7 linked regions of the Homo sapiens genome follow. The protein of the gene in region 5 purifies or fractionates together with the protein of the main gene of each other region. This does not show direct contact. Each region holds a gene or a part of one and is shown on either strand. Other genes may lie near its edges.

What was found.
Region 1: the proteins of TMED2 (region 5) and GOLGB1 purify together in Homo sapiens (co-immunoprecipitation; 3 studies listed by BioGRID and IntAct, with this or other methods). This does not show direct contact.
Region 2: the proteins of TMED2 (region 5) and FGFRL1 purify together in Homo sapiens (affinity purification with mass spectrometry; 2 studies listed by BioGRID and IntAct, with this or other methods). This does not show direct contact.
Region 3: the proteins of TMED2 (region 5) and ATP9A purify together in Homo sapiens (co-immunoprecipitation; 3 studies listed by BioGRID and IntAct, with this or other methods). This does not show direct contact.
Region 4: the proteins of TMED2 (region 5) and USP22 purify together in Homo sapiens (affinity purification with mass spectrometry; 2 studies listed by BioGRID and IntAct, with this or other methods). This does not show direct contact.
Region 6: the proteins of TMED2 (region 5) and SURF4 purify together in Homo sapiens (co-immunoprecipitation; 2 studies listed by BioGRID and IntAct, with this or other methods). This does not show direct contact.
Region 7: the proteins of TMED2 (region 5) and PA2G4 purify together in Homo sapiens (affinity purification with mass spectrometry; 2 studies listed by BioGRID and IntAct, with this or other methods). This does not show direct contact.

Annotation. Positions count from the first base shown.
Region 1 is NC_000003.12:121,701,242-121,704,741, forward strand, and holds part of GOLGB1 (golgin subfamily B member 1), read right to left. Parts: intron 1,355-3,500; coding exon 1,240-1,354; intron 1-1,239. UniProt on the Homo sapiens protein: May participate in forming intercisternal cross-bridges of the Golgi complex.
Region 2 is NC_000004.12:1,010,312-1,014,425, forward strand, and holds the start of FGFRL1 (fibroblast growth factor receptor-like 1 precursor), read left to right. Parts: upstream 1-1,314; 5' UTR 1,315-1,643; intron 1,644-1,660; exon of another isoform or gene 1,661-1,676; intron 1,677-1,829; exon of another isoform or gene 1,830-1,966; intron 1,967-2,152; exon of another isoform or gene 2,153-2,158; coding exon of another isoform or gene 2,159-2,174; coding exon 2,175-2,253; intron 2,254-4,114. UniProt on the Homo sapiens protein: Has a negative effect on cell proliferation.
Region 3 is NC_000020.11:51,765,591-51,769,693, forward strand, and holds the start of ATP9A (probable phospholipid-transporting ATPase IIA), read right to left. Parts: upstream 2,801-4,103; 5' UTR 2,780-2,800; coding exon 2,712-2,779; intron 1-2,711. UniProt on the Homo sapiens protein: Plays a role in regulating membrane trafficking of cargo proteins, namely endosome to plasma membrane recycling, probably acting through RAB5 and RAB11 activation. Also involved in endosome to trans-Golgi network retrograde transport.
Region 4 is NC_000017.11:21,033,012-21,036,511, forward strand, and holds part of USP22 (ubiquitin carboxyl-terminal hydrolase 22), read right to left. Parts: intron 1-3,500. UniProt on the Homo sapiens protein: Deubiquitinase that plays a role in several cellular processes including transcriptional regulation, cell cycle progression or innate immunity.
Region 5 is NC_000012.12:123,587,552-123,591,051, reverse strand, and holds part of TMED2 (transmembrane emp24 domain-containing protein 2 isoform 1 precursor), read right to left. Parts: intron 3,442-3,500; coding exon of another isoform or gene 3,421-3,441; intron 711-3,420; coding exon 603-710; intron 1-602. UniProt on the Homo sapiens protein: Involved in vesicular protein trafficking. Mainly functions in the early secretory pathway but also in post-Golgi membranes.
Region 6 is NC_000009.12:133,363,513-133,366,060, forward strand, and holds part of SURF4 (surfeit locus protein 4), read right to left. Parts: intron 2,517-2,548; coding exon 2,473-2,516; intron 1,515-2,472; coding exon 1,328-1,514; intron 248-1,327; coding exon 1-247. UniProt on the Homo sapiens protein: Endoplasmic reticulum cargo receptor that mediates the export of lipoproteins by recruiting cargos into COPII vesicles to facilitate their secretion.
Region 7 is NC_000012.12:56,107,559-56,110,984, reverse strand, and holds part of PA2G4 (proliferation-associated protein 2G4), read right to left. Parts: coding exon 3,372-3,426; intron 1,756-3,371; coding exon 1,692-1,755; intron 1,129-1,691; coding exon 1,050-1,128; intron 587-1,049; coding exon 508-586; intron 427-507; coding exon 293-426; intron 22-292; coding exon 1-21. UniProt on the Homo sapiens protein: May play a role in a ERBB3-regulated signal transduction pathway. Seems be involved in growth regulation. Acts a corepressor of the androgen receptor (AR) and is regulated by the ERBB3 ligand neuregulin-1/heregulin (HRG).

The sequences.
Region 1 (3,500 bases), on a different chromosome or scaffold from region 5:
TACCTCCAAACCATGTGAAGCCACATGGATAGGATACAGACTGTTTGCAAAACTGCAAAATAAGCATCATGGATAAGGTCTCAAAGAAGTGCTCTGAATGGGTTAAATAATGAGCTGAATTTGTGGTGTTCTTTACTTATTAGAAATAGTGGGAATCGTCTAATACAAGTGCATAAGCTTCCATTTAGATCTAAGTGGAAAACTGTAAAATGGTTAAGTTAGAAATACTGGCTCTAGAGTTTAATAAAAGTTTTACAACCTTTACTTGCTATTCATTCTCACTCCTAGATGATAAAGTGTAGTAGTCAGTTAAAGATGAATTAGATCAATAAAGCATTAACGACACGCTACTAAATCCATAAAGTCTACATGAAGCATATGATAAGTGGAAGGAGACACGTCTTCATTCTCACTAACTGTTCACACACAATCCAATAGGATAAAATGCTAAGTTCAGTTCAATCCAACAAAACTTTATTCAGTAGCCATTATTTGCCAGGTGGTATACTAGTTTTGGGTAAAGCAAAGATGGAAAAAAAAATGGCCCCTGCCCTTGAAGAGCTTATATTTAAACTTTGAAGAGCTTATAATATAGTAAAAAAGACAAACATATAAACAGATCATTTTAATACAATGTTAAAAGTATACAAGGATGTTATGGAAGCACAAAAAAATCATTTAACCCAACTTTTGGGGACCAATACCAAATTCCTGAAAAAGATAATATGCTAGTCGAGGCCTGAAAGATGAGTAACAATCATCCAGACTAAAGGAAAGGAGCAGGATTCTAAGCAGGGTACAGCACGAGCATAAACCACTCACTCACAACATAGTTTCTACCTTTAAACCTTTATACTGATCTCTGTTACCTCATCCCACAAATTTATTACCAGAATGTCCTTTCTTTCTTCATTTTACCTATTTTAAAAATCATCTTATTAAGGTCCTGTTCAAGCCATACTTCCTATAGGATACGATGACCATTCCAAAATGATTATGAGTTATAAAGAAATCCTGCAGCATGTATAGTCCATATTGCAAAATGTTATACTTATGTAAACACTGATACTATGCTCTAATTGTTTAATGTGTATTATCTTTGATAGTTACCAGCTCTATTATCTAAATCTTTATTATCACGGAATCAGAGAATTCTACATGTTATACATAATTAGTGATAAAAGTAGAGGCACTTGTGGGATAAGAAGACAGAGAATTATGGTTTTCTTTTATACATACCATTCTCAGCTTTCAGCTCCTCCAGCTCTATAGAACTAAGGAGCAAGGCTCCCTTTTCATTCTCTAGTTCTACCACTCTCTTCTGCAAAGAAGCAATATTCTCCTCAGTGACTGCCTAAATTGTAGAAAGACAACAAATTAATGATTCTCCAGCAGAAAATTCTCACACTAACGCCCAGATAGCCTCCAGCATTTTTGTCTTCTAGAAGTTCTCCAGCCATGAAAATACTTTAAAAATAACATCTACTTATCTGCCTAGGTAATCTTTGAAGAAAAGTGTTTTATCTAAAGATTTAGAAAAAGAAATAAAATATTTCACACAAATATCAAGTTCATTGGCTTTTAAATTTAAGATTGAAGCCTGGATTACAAAGATAGAAATCCCAAGTCTATAGCATAAGAAAGAACATTTTCAGGTTCACAAACAAATAGTATTACAAGATTAGATTAATGTCACCAAGTAACATGGTCTCTCTCCTGAAGGAGAATGAACATGAAGAGAGGTTCCACAAAGAGGAATAGAGGCAAAGGAATATGTACCTCTTAAGAAAGGAAGAAGATTTATAAAATTGTTTTTTGTTTTCCAAGTATAATAAAAATTCCCTTGGCTTAATTTATACATCCAGAATTTTTGGTTTTCCTAAGGATAGGCATATATCTAATTATGTCACATCTTTAGTTTTATGTCTTTGTATATATTTTTTATTCTCCATGGATATTATTCTATAAAATTTTCATACAATTGTAGAATTTTTAAGCCATGAGGGTCTTTACAGCATATTTGACCCCGAAATCTTCATTCAATGTTTAAAATAAATAGCATGGGATGAATTTAGGGTTTTTATGGCTTTTATCTTGAGGGAAGTTCCCAGTTTGCAGTATGCAGGGCAAGTAAAATTCCAATAGAATAGCCACAGATATTTCTGGCTTGAAGAATGAGAAGAGTTTGGGACAAACATAGCTGCCAGGATGTGAGGAGGGAGATCAGAGAGAAGAAAAAGAGTTAGGAAGGAGGAGCCCTGAATTCTGTGTATAAACTTAGCTGAAATTTCTGACTGAACAATGGCACAATGTATTTGTTGGACTGACTTAAAGCAGCCCAGCTAAGGCAAAAATAACTGAACTGAGTTTTGATGCCTCTCTATCATAGGCCAGAGTTTGGGGTTTGAGTCCAACTTACTGTCTGATAAAAAGTAATTGAAATTTTAGAAATAACAAAATAAAATCTTGAGAACAAAACACGACATCCAGAATTCAAAACAAAACCATTCACACATAAAGAAATAGGAAAGAGTGACCCATTCTCAAGGAAAAAAAATATAATCAACAGATTCTAGCCATAAAATGATGCAGATTTTGTAAGTAGCAAACAAGAATTTTAATAAAGAAGCTATTATATCTATGCTTAGGACATAAATGAATATGCTCATAATGAATGAGAAGAAAGGAAATCTTAGTAAAACAAACAAAAAAAAATAATGAACCAGTTTGAAATTCCAGAACTAATAAACATAATATCTGAAATGAAAATTTCAATGTGATAGGCTTGACAGTAGAATATAGACGACAGAAGAAAGTCTTGGTGAATTGAGGATGATAAATCAACTGAAATTATCCAATCTGAAGACAGAAGAATAAAAAAAATTGAAAAAAAAAATGAATACAACCTCAGGGACATGTGGGACAATATTAAAAGGTTCAATATACGTGTAATTGGAGTACCAGAAGAGACGAGGGACAGAATGGGAAGAAAAAATATTTTAAGAAATGGCCAAAAATTTCTCAAACATAACGTTATATACGTAAGAAACTCAACAAAAGCAAGCAAGAAAATGACAAAGAAAACTATAACTAAGTACTTCATAGACAAGGATAAAAGGAAAGTCTTAAAATTTCCATGGAAAAATGATACTTTACATACAGAGAAACAATAATTCGAATGACTACTGACCAATTGTTAGGGAAAAAATATAGGCCAGAAGAGGGAAACACCTTCTTTAAAGTACTGAAAGAAAGGCTGGACACAGTGGCTCACGCCTATAATCCCAGCAGTTTGGGAGGGCGAGGCAGGTGGATCATCTGAGGTTGGGAGTTCAAGACCAGCTTGACCAACATGGAGAAACTCCGTCTCTACTAAAATACAAAATTAGCCAGGCGTGGTGACTCACGCCTGTAATCCCAGCTACTCAGGAGGCTGAGGCAGGAGAATTGCTTGAACCCAGGAGGCACAGGTTGCGGTGAGCCAAGACTGTGCTATTGCA
Region 2 (4,114 bases), on a different chromosome or scaffold from region 5:
GCCGTCCGAGCGCACCTCCATCCGCCCTCGCGACGCCCACGCTGGCCCAGACGCGGGATTTGGGGTGGAGGACGCTGGGCTGGGAACCAGCACCTTGGGACGGCCGGGTAGTTCGGGCCTTGAGGAGTCCCACACCCTGACAGCTGGCGCCCCCCACGCCCCGCCTAGCTCTCCTCGGCCTGGGGACACCGGCTGCCAGGCCTCTCCAGTTTCAGCCTTTCCTGGGAGGACTTCCTGGAAGAGGGGGCTTCAGGCCCCAGAAAGAGAGGCTGCTCTGGGGGATGGAGGAGGTGCTGGGATGGTGACTCCGCGGAGTCGAGGGTGTGAGGCGGGATGTGGGCAGGCCGTGAGGTTTGTGTTGCAAGACTGGGAGGCAGGATGAGGGGAGGCCATGGGGCGGCTGGAGGTGCGGCCTGGGAGCCCTGCGTGCTGGGCCCTGGGCAGGGACGGCAGGCGAGGCGTGTGGAGGAAGAGCCGCGAAGAGCTGGGCGCTGTCTTCTCCACGCCTCCGTTTCTTCATCTGCTCCTGGGGCCGCCTGCCCGGTAGCGGAGATTGAATCGCATGTTGACGTCTATTACGATGATTAATGTTCTTGTCATTCCCGTCACTAGCAGGTGAGAGGCTGGGAGGCCTCAGGTGGGAACATACCTTTGGCCAAAGGCACCAGGTAACCCGAACGCCCCGGGGAGGACCCCTGCCTGCATCGCCGCGGCCGTCCCCCCCTACCCCGTCCCCAGCAGCTCCGGCTGGGCGAGGCCCTGCTTCTCCCTTCTGCTCCCGAAGACCCCCCGGGGCGCAGACCTGGAAGCCTCGAAGCTCCCGCGGCCGTCCAGTCCGCCCCCTTCTGAGCAACCAGAGAGCGGTCTGGGCCCGGCCCGGGGCTGCGCAGAGGTCAGACTGCCGCGGGCAGGGCCGGAGCCTGCTCTGGGGGTCGCGGAGGTGTCTCGAGAGTTGAGGACCCGACCCGGGCGCGCGCGGGCGCAGGTATGGGGAGGGCGCGGCGGCTCCTGGCCGGTCCTAGGAGCCTGCGGGGACCAAGGGCGCGCGGGCGGGGCCGGGGGCGCGGCGAGGCTCGGGTTGGGGCGGGGCGGGGGCGGGGGCGGGGCCGGACCCGGGGAAGCCGCCCGCCCGCGGGGACGTCCGCACCGCGAGGGTTAAGGCCGGGAGCCCGGCGGGGCGGGGGCGGTGTGCGCGCGCGGATTGGGGAAAAGTTTGGCGGCGGGGCGGGGCACGGGGGAGGGCTGACGCGCGCGGATTGGCCGGAAGTTGTGCCGGGGGCGGGTCGGGGGTCCGGGCTCGGCGCTCGCTCCGGGAGAGTTGACAAAGCCCCGCAGGGAAGGACGCCTCGCGGCGCGGCGCCCCGGGCCCCTCGCCCCGCCGCCCCGGGATCCCGGCCCCGGCCCCCGGCCCCGCGGACTCGCCCCCGCCGCCTGCCCGGTCCGGGACCCCGCGCCCCGAGCGCCCGAGCCCGGACCCCGACCCGGCCCGAGCCGCCCGCGCCCAGGTAGCGCCGCCCCGCCCCGAGACCGGGCCCGGGGGCGCGGGGCGGCGGGATGCGGCGCCCGGGGCGGCGATGACCGCGGAGCGCACGCCGCGGGCCCGGCCCTGACCCCGCCGCCCGCCCGCTGAGCCCCCCGCCGAGGTGAGCCCCCCGCGCGCGCGGCCGCGACCCCAGGTGGGCACACGGGGGAGGGCGGGGGTCCGGGGCGGGGGCGGGGAGGGGCGGGTTCGGGGCCCCAGCTGGGCACGGGTCATGCGCGCCGCCGCCGCTCCTGCGGGCCCCCGGCCTGCCCCGCCCCCGCCCCCGCGCCCCACGTGGGCCCCCCCCAGCGCAAATTTGTCCGCTAATGGCGCAGGCGATTATCTGCGGGGCGCTGAGTGTTGTGTGTCCTGCGGGCAGGGCCGGAGTTACAAGCGCCAGGAATCCAGACGGTGTTTGGAGAGGGGGGGCGGCGGGGGAGCCCGGTAATTAGTGTAAACCCTTTGTCTGCCTTTGATACCCACAGCTTCTCCCCGCTGCGGCTTCCTCCGCCTGGAGCGCGGGCGGGGAGGGCCTGTGGGGAGGGCGGCCAGACCCCTGATCCCCGCGGCCCGGGACCGGGGAGGGCGGTATCTCCCAGTTCCACGTGTTAGTGACGGCGCCCCCAATGTCCCCAGGTCCGGACAGGCCGAGATGACGCCGAGCCCCCTGTTGCTGCTCCTGCTGCCGCCGCTGCTGCTGGGGGCCTTCCCGCCGGCCGCCGCCGCCCGAGGTGAGTTCTGGCGCCCAGCCCGGCCAGCCTGGCCTCCGCCAGCGCCGCCCCCTTCCCGCCCGGCCCTGAACCCTGCCACAGTGCCCGCCTGGCACGCGCCATGCCCCGCCCCTGCCGCCCCGCTCGCCAGGCCCCCTTCCTTCCAGGGCCCCCTCACCCATGGGCTGTCCACAGCACCCACCGGGGCTCCCCTAGCTGGCTGGAGGGGTTCCCCTCATGCGTGCTTGCTGGCCAGGTGGGCTTTAGTCCTGGCTCCCCAGGACATGCTCCTGGTCTTGCAAACACTTTCATACTCGTACCTGCAGTCCAGGGCAGCTAATCACCTGTGGATTCTTGGGGAGTGGGCGGTTTGTGGCCACAGTGGACCCGATAAGGACTCTGGGAACCTGCAGAGACCCCCACGGAAGGCAGGATGGGCTATGGGAGATATTGGTAATATACTTGGTGTCTGGGACTGAAACTGACCCCCAGACCCCCAGTCCCCCAGCCGACCTAGCCGTGTGCCCTGGGCCTGCCCAGCTCTAGGCAGGCAGTGCCGGGCGGTTGTGTGGACAAGTCCCCAGAGCCGTGACGCACCCCAGGACTGCGTGCCTCTGGGCACACGCTGTGCTGGCCTGGTACGTGCTCATGGCACCGACATCTAAGTGGCAGCCATGCCCTGGGACCCAGCCCCAGCAAGGACATCCGGAGCCGATGGGTGACGTGTGCCCGCAGACTCATGCCCGCCATGTTCCAGGATCCGGGCACAGCGCTGGCTGCCCCCATGGCTAGGCGGGACCTGTGGCCAGGCCGGCCCTTTGGGCGTGTTGACCACTCAGGATTGTCCGCGCTGTGTCCACCAGTCCTGAGGCTTCGCACCCCTCCCCTGCCGCCCAGCAAGCGCGCCGCATCCAACCTGGCCTTATATGGGCACGTTCGGGTGCTGGGTGGCGGGCGGTGACCAGGTGGGCCTTATGCCACAGCACCCCCCCCTACCCCCCGCCTGCCCACATGGGCCTGGCTGAGCGGCTGCTCTGAGGGCCCGGCAGCGTCCTGGGCTGTGTGGGCACTCAGGCCATACTGGGCGAGCCCCTACCATGGCCAGCGGCCTGGACTTGCATTCTCTTTGATCTGTTTGGCCTCCCCAATCCCTACACCTGCCTGTCCTCTGGCCACTCGGCCAGGGAGGCTCTGGAGGCCTCTGTCCTGCCATGTTTCCTGGCTGGGGCTGAAGCTGACTGGTGGATGGCCACGGTCAGCCATGGCAGTGGGCGGCAGAGCCCGCCTCTTCGTGGAGACGCCCCAGCGGCCACCCCCTTCGCCTTCGTCCTCCTCAGCTGCGGCCTTGGGGCTGAGGATATCCAGCCCTGGCTTTGCGTGGCAAAGGCCCTGGCGGCACTGGGGAGCTGGGATCAAGCTGCTTTCCAAGGGCAGGGGCCTCTGTGGTTTGGGTGGAGGTGGGGAGGAGGTTCTTCCGGACTGTGCTGATTTTCCTAGCGTGGACTAGGGCGCGAGGTCCATCCAAGTGTGTTTCTCCTGCTCTGAACAGCCCACTGTGCACCTTCGTTAGGCCAAGGACCAGCATGCAGAGGGCTTGGGTTATTTTTGAAAAGCCATTTCCCGCTGGGTCATAAGTTCTGGAATCGGCACATCGCTACACTCAGATCATATTTTAAAAGTTCCTCTTTTCCCAAACTTTCACAATCTTGGTGGATTTGTCTTAAACTGCTTTTTTTTTTTCCAATTTGAAAAAATATAGGAATTGGCTTTCTCCCTTTCCATTTTATTTCTCACAGTGGGAACTTGAGAGGTTCTGCATGAAATGTCTTTCACAAATAACTCTGAAGGAAGTCGTTTCAGGGCTTTCTGAGAAGTGCCACCT
Region 3 (4,103 bases), on a different chromosome or scaffold from region 5:
GCAGTGAGCCGAGATCGTGCCAGCCTTGGCAACAAGAGTGAAGCTACATCTCAAAAAAAAAAAACAGAATTAGATTAGTTCCAGGCCAAGCACGGTGGCTCACGTCTGTAATCCCAGCACTTTCGGAGGCCAAGGCAGGTGGATCACCTGAGGTCAGGAGTTCAAGACCAGCCTGGCCAACATGGTGAAACAACTCTCTCTACTAAAAATACAAAGATTAGCCGGGAGTGGTAGTGGGCACCTGTAATCCCAGCTACTTGGGAAGCTGAGGCAGAAGAATCGCTTGAACCCAGGAGGCAGAGGTTGCAGTGGGCCAAGACCAAGGCATTGCACTCCAGGCAACAAGAGTGAAACTACATCGTCTCAAAAAAAAAGAAAGATTAGTTCCAAAGCTGGTAAATTCTAAAGGGGCTGTGATGCTCCATTCCAACGCAACCTAGAAAACTTACTTTTAAATAAAATTATCTGCACCACTCCCTCTGGCTCTCCATATGAACGGCTCATGTTTCTATCACGCTAATGATCACTTTTGAACAATATTTGCATTTTTCTTTCATGTACTGACTCAAAAGTTCTCAACTCTGACTGCATGTTAAAATCATCAGGGGAGCTTATTAAAATATATAGATAGAAACCCAGGTCCCACCCTAAATTCTTATTTCAAAGGTCTAGAATGAATCAGAAAAGGCTAGTTAAGTTTCCCTGGTGATTGCAATGAACAGCCAGGGTCAGGACACCCACACCTGTTGGGCAGGTCTTCTTTAATTCATCCTTGCATCCCCATCAGCTGGAGTGGCTCCTGCACATAGTAGGCGTCTCATAATTGCTCATGGCACAAATTAATAACCACTGGATTTTAGACTCCACTGATCATATTAATTCATCACAGTATTTACGGAGGATGTACGATGTACCAGGCACTGTTCCAGGCATAGTGTTCAAGTCAATTGTCATCATTAAAACGAAGGAGGCCGGGCGCGGTGACTCACGCCTGTAATCCCAGCACTTTGGAAGGCCGAGGTGGGTGGATCACGAGGTCAGGAGTTCAAGACAAGCCTGGCCAAGATGGTGAAACCCCCGTCTCTACTAAAAATACAAAAACTAGTCAGGCGTGGTGTCGGGCGCCTGTAATCCCAGCTACTCGGGAGGTTGAGGCAGAGAATTGCTTGAACCCGGGAGGCGGAGGTTGCAGTGAGCCGAGATCTCGCCACAGCACTCCAGCGTGGGCAACAGAGGGAGACTCCGTCTCAATAATAATAATAATACTAATAATAATAAACGCAAAACAGAGAAGGGAGGAGTGAGGGAACTATCTTTGGGTCAGACAATCCGGAGTTCAATCTCCATTTTGCAGTCTTCCCTATAGCCCTTAACCTCCGTAACCTCCAGTTTCCTCCTCTGGGTAATATCAGTGAGGCCTCTTCTTCGGAGGATTCAGGAAGCCAGGGACAAAGACCCCACAAAATGGCCGCCAGCACCATTCTTTTTTTTTTTTTTTTTAATTCCACTGACACCTGGTGAAGCCACCCTTATGGTTCACTCCACCCGCCGCGTCTCCTGTTCCGAGCAACTGACGCTGCAATAAGCGGCCGCCACCGGGAAATGCCCAGAGAGGACCAGACGCCCGAGGAAGGGCGGAGCAGAGCGGCCGCAGGCCCCGCCCAACACCGCGCTCAGCCTCCCGCGGGCTCCAGCCTCACCTGCGCGGCCTGTGGAGCTGCACATCTCCAGGCCCCGCCCCCCAGAACTCTGATTGGCGGGTCTAGGCGGGGGCCGGGAAATCTGCATTTGCACCAGCGCCCACCCCCGTCCTTCCCACCCCCGCCCCTCACGCCCAGGTAAGTCTATGGCAGGCGATACGAGAGCCCCGCAAACCTCAACGCGTCACGCTGCCATCCTCCGAACAGGAAGACGGCGAGGCGCAAAATACCAACCCGTCCCCTCTTCCCAAATGCAGAAAAACCCTTGCCTGTTCCGCGCCTAAGCTGCCCTCGGGGTCTCCTACTGCGGGAAGGGCACAGCAGGTGGCAGCCCCTGTCCCAGCCGTGGGATTCCTTCCCCGAAATTGTGGGGGGAGAACACAAGGGGTAGTGTCACCAAGCGGCCAGTAGGAGACCCTCCCACCCTCCTGCGACTGCTGGTTCGGGTCCACCCCGGGCGGAGGGGGAAGGGGCCACCGGAGCGCAGGTGGTCTCGGCGCAGCCTCCTGGGGCTGGGACCCAGGGGCGCTGATGGGGTACCCCGAGGCGTAGGCCGCGCCCCCCTAAAAGCTGAGCATATCTGGGCTCCCGAGTAATGCTCCAAGCGCAGAGCTCGGTGTGACACTGACCAAATTGTTACCTCAGATATTAATTACGGACAGATATTAATTACGGAACAATAAAACGGTGAGAAAGCACGGCTGATCCGAATTCCGCGAGTGTGTAAACAGCACTGGGGCGGGCCCGGCTTCTCGGGGTTTCTAAAGGAAGGTGGGCAAGGAGGCCCAGGCAACCGGGCGCTCGAACCCCAAAGGGCCGGCATCAGGCTAGGTGCCGCCCGGGGCTGAAGCGCAGGGACCCCCTCCCCACCTCCCCGCCTCCCCAGCCCTGCCCCAGGCTCATGGCGCCGGGCGCGGCGCGCGGCCAACCTGTCAGGCCCGGCCAGGCTGGCCCGAGCGCCGGGCTCCGGGAGGCGCGGACAAAGGAAAACACGGGCCCAGGCCCACTCACCCGGCGCGGGGCCTGCTGTCCATCCGCTTCTTCTGGCGCACCGGCTGCAGCGGGATGTTGTCCGTCATGTCGGCGGCGCCGCCCGCCTTGGCCGCCGCGCCCCCCGCGCCGCCTGGGCCGCCGCCCGGTCCGGCCTCCGCGCCGCCGCCCGCCGGCGCCGCGCCGCCCCGGGGGAGGAGGCGGCGGCAGCGGGCGGGCCGGGCCCGCAGCGAGGGGGCGAGCTCGCGAGCGCCGGGCCACGCGCGGAGCGCCCGCGCGGCCCGACCGACGGACACGGGCGCACCATGGGCCCGAGCTCCGCGCTGCGCCCGCTCGCTCCGCGCCGCGCCGCGCCTGCCACGGGGGGCGGCCGGGCCGTGTCCGCGCCGCCGCGACCGCTGCAGTGTCCCCGCCCCCGGCCCGCGCCCGCGCCCCCCACGCGCGCCCACCCGGCCACGCGCCCCCCGCCCACGCCCGCCGTGCGCGCACCCTGCCACCGCACCCCCCGCAAAATCCCACATTCACAATCACATCCCAGCCCTATACACGCGCGCTGTGACACTCATCCCCACCAATATCTGACATGCACAATCACACGGGCACCCGGCCACGCTCACCCCATCAGTCAGTCATTCTCACTCACTCTTGCACCAACGTGCATATTCACGCCCAGGCCCTACACACACACCTGCCACTGCTCACTGCCTGCAACATCTAACATTCACAATCACATGTGAGTCCTGCACACACACATAACACTCTCACCCTCCTGTTGGTCACCATCATCCATGCACCCAGTTTCTCAAGCCTCACACCCATGTGCCTGCAGAAATCACAGTCACACAGGGACCCTCAGCTTATCAGACTCCTTCACCCTCTGACCTTCACCATCCTCACCCTCATTCTCTATCTGGATTCTGGGAACTCACCATGACACACACGCACCTGCCTCTTTCATCCAAACACCCTTCAATAGTCTGAACACCCTCATTCTCACACCAGCCACTTTCTTGGGCTTGCACATGGGCCCCACTCTCAGGCCTCAGACAGTCACCCTGCATTACCTGTCACTGTGATTCACGGTCTCACACACACACCTATCTCCACCGCAGCCCACATCCACACTCACTTCCACACCCTCCCACACAGTGTCTGGGACCCATGAACTTTTCAAAGGCCTGATAAAGTTATGAGAGCAGGAAAAAAAAAACAGAGGGAAGGAACAAAGTGAGGGAGTTTAAAAATCAATATGTAACTAAAGAGCCTGAAATTGTAATAATACCATATAAACTAATCTAAAGCTGACTTTTACATAGTTACATCTAATGACTGATCATGTTGGACGCCGTTTCTTTTTTTTCTTTTTGAAACAGAATCTCCCTCTGTCGCCCAGGCTGGAGTGCAGTGGCAAAA
Region 4 (3,500 bases), on a different chromosome or scaffold from region 5:
ACATTTGCAGACGATGCGGTTGGTGAGTAAGCTAAGGAGAGAGGCCCAGTGGGGGCATCCACAGGCTGACATGGACCGTGGAGGGGTGGCACTGTTTAAGCAGCCCAGCACACCACTTTCTGGTGTGGTGGCTCCTGCAGAGGCAGGATTCCCCAGGCTGGCGGGTTTTCCTAGAAATTCAACCTAGAATCTACTACTCCATAGCCCTTGCAATGATTTCTGAATTAAATCCTTTTCTCCTATAAATTAATTCAAGTAGATTCAGTAGACTGCAAGCAAATCCTGAAACATAACTAGGATTTGTATGTGACAGGAATTAGAAGAGGATCAATTATTTAATTGTTGTTGATCTTATGCAGTACAGAAACACCCTGCCAAATTCATTAATTTGGTCCCGATATTAAGAATATTCCTCTGAATATCCTGTCCTCTTATCTCCCCACTCACACTACCTCCCACCCCAAGAAGGATGCGGAGGAGCAAGAGGGGCAGAGCCCTTGTAGTCAACCAGACTTACCCTATGGGATGACTCAACAGTACACTGAATTTTGAGTCCAGCTTTTAAAAGTGTGCAAACATGACACACCACCTTAAGAGCTAGTGCACTTTTCACACATTACCCATGACTTCCTACTGGTCTAAAACCTGAGCATCTTAGGAAGGTAAGTTTAATTCTTGTGCATTCTCTTCAGTGACTTTTTCAAGGACTCAAACACTGACATAAGTGAAGGGACAGGTATAATTTTTTTTTTTTTTGAGAAGGAGTCTTGCTCTGTCACCAGGCTGGAGTGCAGTGGCGTAATCTCCGCTAACTGCAACCTCCGCCTCCCGGGTTCAAGTGATTCCCCTGCCTCAGCCTCCCGAGTATCTGGGACTACGGGCGCGTGCCACCATGCTCGGCTAACTTTTTGTATTTTAGTACAGATGAGGTTTCACCATGTTGGCCAGGATGGTCTTGAACTACTGACCTCAAGTGATCCACCCACCTCAGCCTCCCAAAGTGCTGGGATTACAGGCATGAGCCACCGTGCCCGGCCTAAATATTCTATCCTTTATATGAAAAAAAAAATACGGCACTAAAAAGCTAAAGACTTTGCCAAAATTAGATAATCTTCTCAAATTAAGTTCCCCAACCTCAAAAACCTCAGCTTCCAGACTCAGGCCCCTCAATCTCGGAGCCAAAATCAATCTAAGGGTACAGCGACTCCAGACCTTTCAATTTACAGAAGGGGTAATTTCATTCAGCAAAGGCAAGACCTCAGACTGACCTCATTTCAAGGCTGGGACCCAGCAGTTGCCGGTGATGTCCTTGGACAGGTCAGGAGACTTACTTGCCAGGCCTACCTAAAAAGTGTATCCCAACTACCAAAACCAGAAGGAAATTACGTATGAAATATAAAATATCACAGCAGTCCTCCCTTACCTACAGTTCCGCTTGCTGTGGTTTCAGTTACCCACAGTCAACCTCAGTCTGAAAATAGTAACATGGAAATGCCAGAAATAAACAATTCATAAGCTTTAAACTGCCCGCCGTTCTGAGAAACATGATGAAACTGAGTGACATCCCGCTCTGTCCCATGACCATCCCTTTGTCCAGCTTCTCCGTGCCATCTAGGCCACCTGCCCGTTAAGTCACTTGGTAGCTGTCTTGCTGATCACATCAACTGTTGCGGATGTGATCACGGATAAAAGTGAACACAAGCCACTTTTATTTGGCTTAATATGGCCCCAAAGCTCAAGAGTACTGATGCTGCAATTTGGATATGCCAAAGAAAAGCCATAAAGGGCTTCTTTTACGTGAAAAGGTAAAAATTCTTAATAAGAAAACAATATCAAATAACAAGGTTGCTAAGATCTACAGTAAGAACAAATCTATCCATGAAATTATGAAGGAAAAAAGTTTGCACGTAATACAAATGGGGTTCAGTATTATCTGTGGTTTCAGACAACTACCGGAGGTCTTGGAATGTATCCCTCAAGGATGGGGGTGAGTACTCTATTATCATAAACAGGAAATGAGGAAGCCCAAGAGATGCTGTGCTGAGGGACACACACTTGGACGGAAGCAAACTGGGGCAAAATCCTCCTGGTACTGACCAGCTTAGGCTAGTCTTCCTTTAAATTGAGCTCACCTCACACAACTGTCAATTACACATGTATGGGGAGCAATCACATTATCCTAAAGCCTCATTTTAATCTACCATTCTCACTTAATTCTCTGAGTTTCTTACCAGAGCTGCTAACATATAATAATAAAACTCACACTCAATTCTATCTCAATTTCTACTCTTCAGCACCCTCTGCTACAGGTACTGGCCAACATAAAACAAGAGGCAAGAAAAAGACTCACATATCCATTAGGCGGGTCATTTTAATCCTTGAAAACTGAGTTTACTTCCTACCTAAGCTTCCATCCGCTTAATACCAAGGTGATCAAGTCTGTGTGCTAAATACAGGAAAAGCCTTAATAGGAGACCCTGCTACCAATTTGTAGGAAATAGGACAAAAAAAAAACAAACCACAACACTTTGAACTTCCACTGTTGAGTATGCAAACAGCAAAATCCAGACTATAGGGAAGTCAACAAGTCACAAGGCCCAAGTTTTTCAACAGATAAAGTAGAAGCAAAAAACTGTAAGAAAGGAATGAAGAGAGAACCTACAGATTAAGAAACTTAAACGACTTACCAGTATAGCCACATGATAAATACCATTAAAAGAAAAAGGAATGAACTTTCGGCTGGGCGCGGTGGCTCACGCCTGTAATCCCAGCACTTCGGGAGGCTGAGGCAGACAGATCACAAGGTCAGGAGATCGAGACCATCCTGGCTAACACAGTGAAACCCAGTCTCTACTAAAAATACAAAAAAATTAGCTGGGCGTGGTGGCAGGCGCCTGTAGTCCCAGTTACTCGGGAGGCTGAGGCAAGAGAATGGCGTGAACCCAGGAGGCGGAGCTTGCAGTGAGCCGAGATCGCACCACTGCACTCCAGCCTGGGCGACAGAGCAAGACTCCGTCTCAAAAAAAAAAAAAAAAAAAAAAAAAGGAATGAACTTTCAATCCACTCAATGGATACAATGGATATTGCTAGACAAAAGAAGCCAGTATGAAAAGGCTACAGACTGTATGAACCCAATGATATGACATTCTGGAAAGGGAAAAACCTCCGAGATGGAGACGAGACCAGTGGTTGTGGAGAGTTAGAAGGTGAAGCACAGGGATTTCTTGGGGCAGTGCAACTGTTCTGTACAGTACTGTAGTTGTGGATGCCTCTGTCAAAATCCACTGAGCTTTAAAGCACAAAGAGCAAACCTTAATATATGCGATTTTAAAAATAACTGATGAGGCCCTATGGAATGCAGGCTGAGGCAGAAGAAACCAATTGTATTACACATATAGGACACAACTCCGCCAAGAGGGGTGGGGAGGGAAGTACCTAAGTAATGTGGAAATGAGGAGGGAGTGTAAGACTAAAAGCAAAAGGAACTGTAACTGAGCACT
Region 5 (3,500 bases):
AACAATTAGCTTATTCCTTAGCTCACCATACATTTTTAAAAACCCAAACTTTTTTTTTTTTTTTTCCCTGAGACAGAGTCTAGCTCCATTGCCCAGGCTGGAGTGCAGTGGCCCAATCTCAGCTCACTGCAACCTCTGCCTCCCGGTTCAAGTGATTCTCATGCCTCAGCCTCCCGAGTAGCTGGGACTATAGGTGCACGCCACCACACCCAGCTAATTTTTTTATTTTTTGTAGAGACGAGGTTTCACCATGTTGGCCAGGCTGGTCTCGAACTCCCAACCTCAGGTGATCCGCCTGCCTCAGCCTCCCAAAGTGCTGGGATTACAGGCGTGAGCCACCATGCCCGGCCAGAAAACTAAACTCTTAAAAACTTGTACTAAATCTTAATAGCATTTTCTAGTTTACAATGAATGTCCCAATAATAAACTACAAAGCTCCACACATGTGTATGCTCAAAAAATATCTCGTGTAGGTACACTTTTAAAGTCAATGCTTTCACATAAAATTTGCAAAGTTTCCAAATGAGGAAAATACGAGCAAGCTGTTGAGTAAAACAACCTTCACCATCAGACACTGCTGCAAAGTGACGGCATTCACTTACTGGCTCTGTGTATTCTCTCCCGGACTTCCATGTATTCCTGTTCGTGCTTTACAGCTGTCATCGCCACTGCTAGCTCATTGATCATTTCTTCTAGCTTGTTCTGGTGAGCTATAGAAGGATTTGAAAACAAAACACATTTGTCAATGTCTTTTTTTTTTTTTTTTTGAGACAGAGTCTCGCTCTGTTGCCCAGGCTGGAGTGCAGTGGTGCTCAATCTCAGCTCACTGCAACCTCTGCCTCCCAGGCTGAAGCGATTCTCCTGCCTCAGCCTCCAGAGTAGCTGGGATTACAGGCACACGCTGCCACACCCAGCTAATTTTTGTATTTTTAGTAGAGACGGGGTTTCACCATGTTGGTCAGGCTGGTCTTGAACTCCTGACCTCAGGTGATCCACCTGCTTGAGCCTCCCAAAATGCTGGAATTACATGCGTGAGCCACTGCACCCAGCCATCTTTTTTTTTTTTCAAGACAGGATCTCACTCTATCACCCAGGCTCAAGTACAGTGGTGCAATTATAGCTCACTGTAACCTAAAATTCCTGGGCTCAAGCAATCCCCTGCCTCAGCCTCCTGAGGGGTGCGTCACTATGCCTGACTACCATTTTATTTTTATTTTTTAGAGACGGGGTCTCGCTATGTTGCCTAGGCTGGGGCAATCTCTTTTTGAAAAACACTTATAAAATAAATATAAAATATAAAATAATATAAAATAACTTTTCAAAATCCTCAGAGAAGGCCTGCAAAAGAAGCTACTTTTGAAATGGTTCAAACATCAATTTGGACTACTGATATGAATCATGTCAATTTAATTCTCAAAGCATTTTTAAAAGTCCCTTCCCAGTAGAGAAACCTCTTTCAGGGTAGGAAACATACTATATAATGCTTACTAAGGAAAGGAAAACAACCCCAGGAAATTTCTTCTAATGGAATGTTGTTATGTGAAGTTCACTATACTGACTATTAACTACAGCAAAAGTAGTAAAACACTGAGGAGAGGGGACTAAGAGCACAAAATAAATACCTGTATTTTTAAAATGTAATCCTACAAATAAAGTCTAAGAGTCATGTAACTCTAATATTAATTAAGAAGCAGGAGCAGCACCAAAACAGACTCTTAATCTCTATAAAGCTGAGCAGAGAAAAACATTAAAACGCTCTTAGGAAAATCCACACCAACTCAAACATTCTTCTTTGACAAAGTAATAGTTTCACTATAGTGGGGAACAGCAGGCAATGTAAGTAGAGAGACAAGCCCTTAGCGGCACAAGTTTTCAACCAGGCATCCCTCTTGAACCAAAAATACACACAAGGCACTGTTCTGAAGAGTAAGCATGTGCTTCTAGGTAGTGCCACGTTATGAGAATGAACAGACAGGCAGGAGAGAAACAGCACCAGGAAACCTTCCTGGGAAAGGGGGATCTCTTCATCCCTGCCCAAGACTGGGTCTCTTCTGGGATTCCAGATTCTCGCAGACAACCCCAAGTTTCTTAGGAGAAACCAAGGGCCTCTACCATTGAAGGCAGTTGAATTGGAATGTCAAACCGTCCCTCACTCGAAATTTCCCTTTGGAAGCCCCATGCACCACATGGAACTGATAGAGCAGGGTTTCTCAGCAGTGGCATTGTCTCCATTTTGGACCAAATGCTTTTCTATGCTGTGGGGCGCTATCTGATGCACTATAGGGTATTTAGCAGCCTCCATGGCCTCCAGTCCTAGATGCCTGTAGCACCTACCCCCAGTCTTCCGAATAAAAAATACCTCCAGATATTGCCAAATATCCCCTGGGCATCCTCACTTGAGAACCACTGCTTTAGAGGAAGGCTTGATTTGACAGCTGCCATTCACTGACATTAACAAGCAAAAGCAAGAATTTTGGATATATGTTAAAAAATTATCTAAGAAGTTCAATATTCACATTCATCAACCAACATTTTCAAACTATTTAAGTAGGATCAAACTCCAGAAAATAAACCAAAAAAGCCTTTCAGAACTCCTCATTCTCCCTGAAAATTAGTCAAGTCCTACCCTATAAGTGGCCCTGAAAAATGAGTGCAGGAATTACTAAGTAGTAGGACTCTCTAAATTCTATAGATTTCAAAATCCAACCAAACAACTCAGCTTCTTTATGATGTTAACACTCTACTGATACTGAATATCTGGGAGAAATGTTACCACGCTAATAGTATACTATGAAATGTGTGAAACAATGACTAGCTTCAAAAACTCTGGCATGCACTGTGGGGAAAAAAAAAACAAAAAAAAACACCACCAAATGTGCTGGCTCCCGGTAAGCAATTTATCCAGAACCACCAAGAACCAATCAGGGTTTATTACTGGTAACCTGAGCAATGAACACTCTAACTGCAACATATGGCTAAAAGAACTCTTGTCTTCATATCAACATATGGCTCCTAGAACTGCATTTCATATCCAACTAAGCTTCAGGTTAAGAAGTCTACAAAATGACTTTCTACAAAGTCAAAGGCACCATTTGCTATGAGCTATGTTTAATTGGGACTTCTGTCCCCTTATCATTGAATTTCCACTCTTTAGCATTCATCTTAAAGAACAAAGATGTTACTACTAAAATGTCAACTGTGTTTTCAGTGCTATTAGTTTAAAATAACCTAACCTATACCTCCTGTCAACGAAATAAAAAACCACCAAAAAAAATATCAATCCAATTAGTTGTAGGGGTTTTTTAAGAGAAAAAAACACTCTCATGCCAACAAACTGAGGTTAGAAAAAAGAAAGCAGAAATTAGACATTAGCAAACAAAAAGATGCAAAAAGGATGCTGTCAAAAAGCAATCCACATACCATCCCAGGTATCTCCACCACCTAAAGAAAAGTTAAGATATCTTAACACAAAAAGAACCAACAAAAAGTTTAGCTAAACT
Region 6 (2,548 bases), on a different chromosome or scaffold from region 5:
CATCCATGGAGACACCCCCAGGGCCCAGGGCCACCACCAGGAGCAAGCCCCCAATCACCGACATGGTCTGGAAGAAGTCGTATTTCAGGAAGTCATGCATGGGCTTGTAGACTGGAATGGTCCAGAAGGCGTTGAAATATACGTTGATGGCAAAGAGCCACACAACAAGAGTCAAAGCAGCCAGCTTGGTTTTAAAACCAATGGCCACTAAAATCATCAGAGCTGTGCCCACGATGTTCTGGACAATCTGCATAGGTTGAAACGTAAGAAATTCAAAATAAATGTGAGGAAAAGAGATGCTTTATAAACAAAAGTTCCAGCTGCTGCACGTCATGAAGTCTCTATCCATCAGGCTGATGTAGCTACTGCTGAGACGGCTGCTGGTGCAAGTAGGGAGATAAAAGCCAAAGGGAGGCAGGAGGCAATAAAGCACCAGCTTTGAAATGTGGAAGGTTTGGGGAAGACTGAAGTTCCCAACTAGTAACAGGCTGTGATTTACCAAGATGAATCTCTAATCCATAACTAAATTCCCAAGTGCTTCTTGGCCCACCCAGCCATCCAGGCCAGAAACATCCTCTCTCCTCTCTCCATGGCGCCAGGAGCTCTTCCTGGACACTACCCGGCCAGGGCTCTCAGTCAGCTCCGGAGGTGTGCTCTGGAAGCTCCTGGAGGCCTGCCCCTGACACCTGACACACAGGAATTACTTGAGAAAGATACGAACAGTGAGGAAAGAAAGAAGAGTAAGGGGAGCCCGGGTGGAGAGCCTTGGCCAACCAAGGGCCAAGCACACTCCACCAAGGTCAGAGGTTCTGGCCTTCATTTGCTGGAAAGAAGGCTTGACACACAAGAGATTGACGATGTTTTGGTCTGTTTTAATGGGATCAAAAAGTTTGCTCCGCCGAGCACGGTGGCTCACGCCTGTAATCCCAGCAATTTGGGAGGCTGAGACAGGCAGATCACGAGGGGTCAGGAGATCGAGACCATCCTGGCTAACACGGTGAAACCCTGTCTCTACTAAAAATACAAAAAATTAGCCAGGCGTGTTGGCAGGCGCCTGTAGTCCCAGCTGCTCGGGAGGCTGAGGCAGGAGAATGGCGTGAACCCGGGAGGCGGAACTTGCGGTGAGCCGAGATCACGCACTGCACTCCAGCCTGGGGGACAGAGCGAGACTCCGTCTCAAAAAAAAAAAAAAAAAAGTTTGCTCCATTTCAGCAGCTCCCCCAGGCTGTGGTTAATACCCAACCAGGGAGGGGTGAGCAGGGAGGGGGTGGGGGAGGGACAGCATTCACAGGAAACCAGACCGGTTCAGGCAAGTAGGAATACTTACAGAAAAGAAGCTGGCGTCAAAGTGAAGGAGGGTCATGAACATCAGAACCAGCAAGACCCTGCCTCCGAGCTGCATGTACTGTTTGGGGGAGCTCTCACGCATGGTGGGGACGCCCGCAAACATGCTCTTCCCTTCAGAACGGGATTCTGCTAGGAGCAGCAACAGGCCTCCTCCCAGGGCCAGGTTCCTGAGGAACAGATATGTGGGCTGGAAGCTAAGCCTCACCAGGATCTGGCCTGTCTGTGAGACCAGGTGCAGGGAGACCTTGCTGCCAGTATAAGAAGGCCCTTACTTCCCTTTCTCCAAACCCAGTGATCTGCCAAGCAGGACCAGGCAGGCATGCGCACAGGACCTCAGACTCGAGTTACACCCATGTAAAACCTTACATAGCTCAGGAGACAGAGGTATCTTTACAACTCGACAGTGACAGGCTACCTGAACACACACACAACCGAGTCCTAGTCACAGCTTCAGTGTTGACCAGCTGGGTCCCCGTGGTCAGGTCTGTCCTCCACTCAGACCCGGAGTCCCCACACCCGTGAAATAAGGGTCAGAAGAGACGGCTTCAGTCTCTACTATTCTAGGGGCTCTGCAACATCCTCTTCAGAACCTGTTTCTAAGAGGCACAATTTAGACAGGGGGGTCCAATCTTTTGGCTTCCCTGGGCTACCCTGGAAGAACTGTCTTGGCCACACATAAAATACACTAATGCTAATGATAGGTGATGAGCTAAAAAATAAAACTTAAAAATCACAAAAAAAACTCTCAATGTTTTAAGAAAGTTTTTGAGTTTGTGTTGGGCCATGTTCACCCCGTGGACCACAGGCTGGACAAGCTTGGTTTAGACCCAGAGAAGTCTACTCAAACCAATAGTTAACTGAGTTTAGAAATACAGATTGAGTATCCCTAACCTGAAATGCTTAGGACCCAAAGTGTTTCAGATTTTGGTATATTTGCATTATATACTTATTGGCTGAGCATCCCAAATCTGAAAATCCAAAACCTGAAATGCTCCAATGAGCACTTCCTTTGAGCGTCATGTTGGTGCCCAAGATTTTTCCCATTTTGGAGCATTTCAGACTTTGGATTTGCAATGCTCAACCTGTAGAAGGAGCGTATACTAAAACCAACCAGAATGCACATACCTCATCAAAAACTTCAAGTCCCATAAAATGCTGTAGGCAATCGTCTGAGGGGAAAGAAGAGAGAGATACTTGAGTC
Region 7 (3,426 bases), about 67 Mb from region 5:
TTCTTCTCATCTTCAAATGCTCTGGCAGGGAAGATGATATTCAGAGGTATCTTTAACTCCCCATCAAGTCTTACCATTTTGCTCATATTTTAAAATAGCTCCTACCCTCAGGCAGAAATCATGCTTAGGATTGCTCTTTTACATTACCTTCAATGAGAAGGAGATGGGGAGAGAGAGGGAGGGAGTGAGCACATGCACGCTACAAGTCTAGGCAGGAAGGGAGAGGAAAAAGTGTTCCTGGGTGTATGGTCTGTGAGTCAGACTGGTTCCAAGTACTATCATTGCTTAGTACCTTAAAGTAAACGGCATGGCATCAAAACGCCTTTCCACCTCACTGAAGAAGGCACGTGAAGTTTTCATTTTCAGTCCATACTGTTTAGAGGGGTCTCGTTTGTAAATAGTGGTTCTCTGTCCTGCATCCTTGGCCTGAAAGAGTAATTTAAGTAACATTTGGTCTGGTGAACACTCTCAGTCACCCCTCTTTGCCAACTCTGGTACTCTCCTCACCTTGCCCTCTCCTGAGCTGACGAGAACATCCACAGCATATACTTCATGTACCTCAAATTCAGCTTTTTCATGGTCCTTCCTAAAAGGAATAGAGAGAAAGGAATTTTTTTTTTTTTTTGACACAGAGTCTCATTCTGTCACCCAGGCTGGAGTGCAGTGGCACAATCTCAGCTCACTGCAACCTCCACCTCCCGGGTCCAAGCAACTCTCCTGCCTCAGCCTCCCAAGTAGCTGGGACTATAGGCACAAACCACCAGGCCTGGCTCATTTTTGTAGTTTTTAGTAGAGACAGGGTTTCGCCATGTTGGTTAGGCTGGTTCTGAACTCGTGACCTCAGGTGATCCACCCGCCTCAGCCTCCCAAAGTGCTGGGATTACAGGCGTGAGCCACCGCGCCCGGCCTAGAGAAAGGGAATATTAAGAGCAACAGGTCACTCCTGAAAACATGGAGTAGAGGGCGGACAAGATTCAGTTGGGAGTATAGAAAAAAACCTGATGACTAGTCTTGTGTGGTAGAAGGTAATAAGTAGGGTTGGCACCTACTTCTGCTGGTCTGTGGGATTCTGGATAATGGTTTTTTCTCCATCGATGACATGCTGCTTCAACTGGTGTGACAGCATACCTGTAGATAGTACACAACCTATGGAACAAGCTATCCAGTATCCCAAAAGGTTTCCAAATCCACCCACTTCAGTAGTTTGAAGTGGTAGGCAGTGAGACAACTACCTGGTTATGGAAACACAGGGCTCTGAGATTTCTGGCTTAGACTGGGTTATAGCCAGGATAGATCTTCAAGGGAGCAAAAGCCTCAATTCTGCAAAGCCACTCATTCTTTTTTTTTTTTTTTTTGAGATGGAGGAGATGGAGTTTCGCTCTTATTGCCCAGACTGGAGTGCAGTGGCGCAATCTTGGCTCACTGCAACCTCCTCCTCCCGGGTTCAAGCGATTATCTCGCCTTAGCCTCCCAAGTAGCTGGGATTACAGGCACCCACCACCACGCCCAGCTAATTTTTATATTTTTAGTAGAGACGGGGTTTCACCATGTTGGCCAGGCTAGTCTCAAACTCCTGACCTCAGGTGATCCGCCCACCTCAGCCTCCCAAAGTTCTGGGATTACAGGCGTGAGCCACCGCACCTGGCAAAGCCACTCATTCTTAGACCCTCAACCCTGTTATCTGTTCTCACCTTCTATTGGCGTGCAGTTAAATGAGTGGGCAACTTTGTTCCAGGCTTCTGTCACTTGTGTGTTCTAGAAGTACAACATCAAATGAAAGGTGAGATATCAGGAGCTAATAAGTTCTCTACAATGAGAATAAGAAGCATAAAAGAACTGAGCGTTTTTTTTTTTTTTTTTGAGATGGAGTCTGGCTTTGTCACCAGGCTGGAGTGCAGTGGCGTGATCTTGGCTCACTGCAATCTCTGCCTCCCGGGTTCAAGCTATTCTCCTGCCTCAGCCTCCTGAGTAGCTGGGATTACAGGCACGCAACACCACGCCCAGCTAATTTTTGTATTTTTAGAAGAGACGGGGTTTCACCATGTTGGCCAGGATGGTCTCGATCTCCTGACCTCGTGATCTGCCCACCTCAGCCTCCCAAAGTGCTGGGATTACAGGCATGAGCCATTGCACCTGGCAGAACTGAGCGTTCTAATATCCTCCATCAAGCCCCAATGATTGTCATTCACTGGTTTTTCATTTCATAGCTTGATTATCCCTACAATCTAAAAATACTTTATACAGATGCTCCCCAACTTGCAATGGGGTTACATCTCCAAAAAACTCATAAGTTGAAAATATCACTAAGTCAAAAATGCATTTAATACCCCTAACCTACCTAACATCACAGCCTAGCCTATGTTAAATGTGCTCAGAGCACTTAAAAAACATTATCCTACAGTTGGGCAGAATTATCTAACACATGCCTATTTTATATTAGTGTTGAATATCTCATGTAATTTACTAAATACTATATGGAAAATGAAAAACAGAATGGTTGTATGGGTACTCAAAGTATAGCTTCTACTGAATGTAGCATCAAGCTGAGGACCAGCTGTAACTGCATATCATTTTACCCAGTGCTTTCACAAAGATGGTCTAACTCAATAAATTTTGCATGTGAACAGGGCAGATGTATATCCCAATCTAGAAGACAAGGAAACTGAGTCTCAGGTTAAATGATTTGCCCCAGGTTAAATGAGTGTTAAGTGAAAGAACTTGGTCATAAACCTGGGTTTTCTTTTTTCTTTTTGTAGACGGGTCTCGCTATGTTTCCCAAGCTGGTCTCAAATGCCTGGGTTCAAGCAATCCTCCCACCTTGGCCTCCCAAAGTGCTGGGATTACAGGCATGTGCCACCACATGCCTATAATATTAAGTCCAGTGTTTATCCTTTTTTACCTGGCATTCTAATCTGTTTTGTGGGGACAGCAAATGCTTATTTTTCCTTTTTCTTTTGTGAGACAGGGTTTCATTGTTGCCCAGGCTGGAGTGCAGTGGCATGATCATAGCTCAGCACAGCCTCAATCTCCCAGGCTCAGGTGATTCTCCCACCTCAGCCTCCCTGGAAGCTGGGAATACAGGCACATGTTACCACGCCCAGCTAATTTTTGTATTTTTTGTAGAAATGGGGTTTCACCATGTTTCCCAGGCTGGTCTTGAACTCCCAGCCTCAAGCTATCCTCCTACCTTGGCCCCCCAAAGTGATGGGATTACAGATGTGAGTCACTGTGCCCAGCTAAATATAGCTAATTTTAAAAAGCTGTTTTATAAGGGGTCTGTAGGGGAGGTTGGTAGTTTCATATAGAGTAGCTATAGGTGCCTAATGCATCTTTGGTTCAAACGAGCTTTGGAATTGGATAAAATAGCTTACCTGATTTCCAGGTTTGACCAGGCGTAGGGCAGCTTCAGCACAAAGGTGAGCTGCC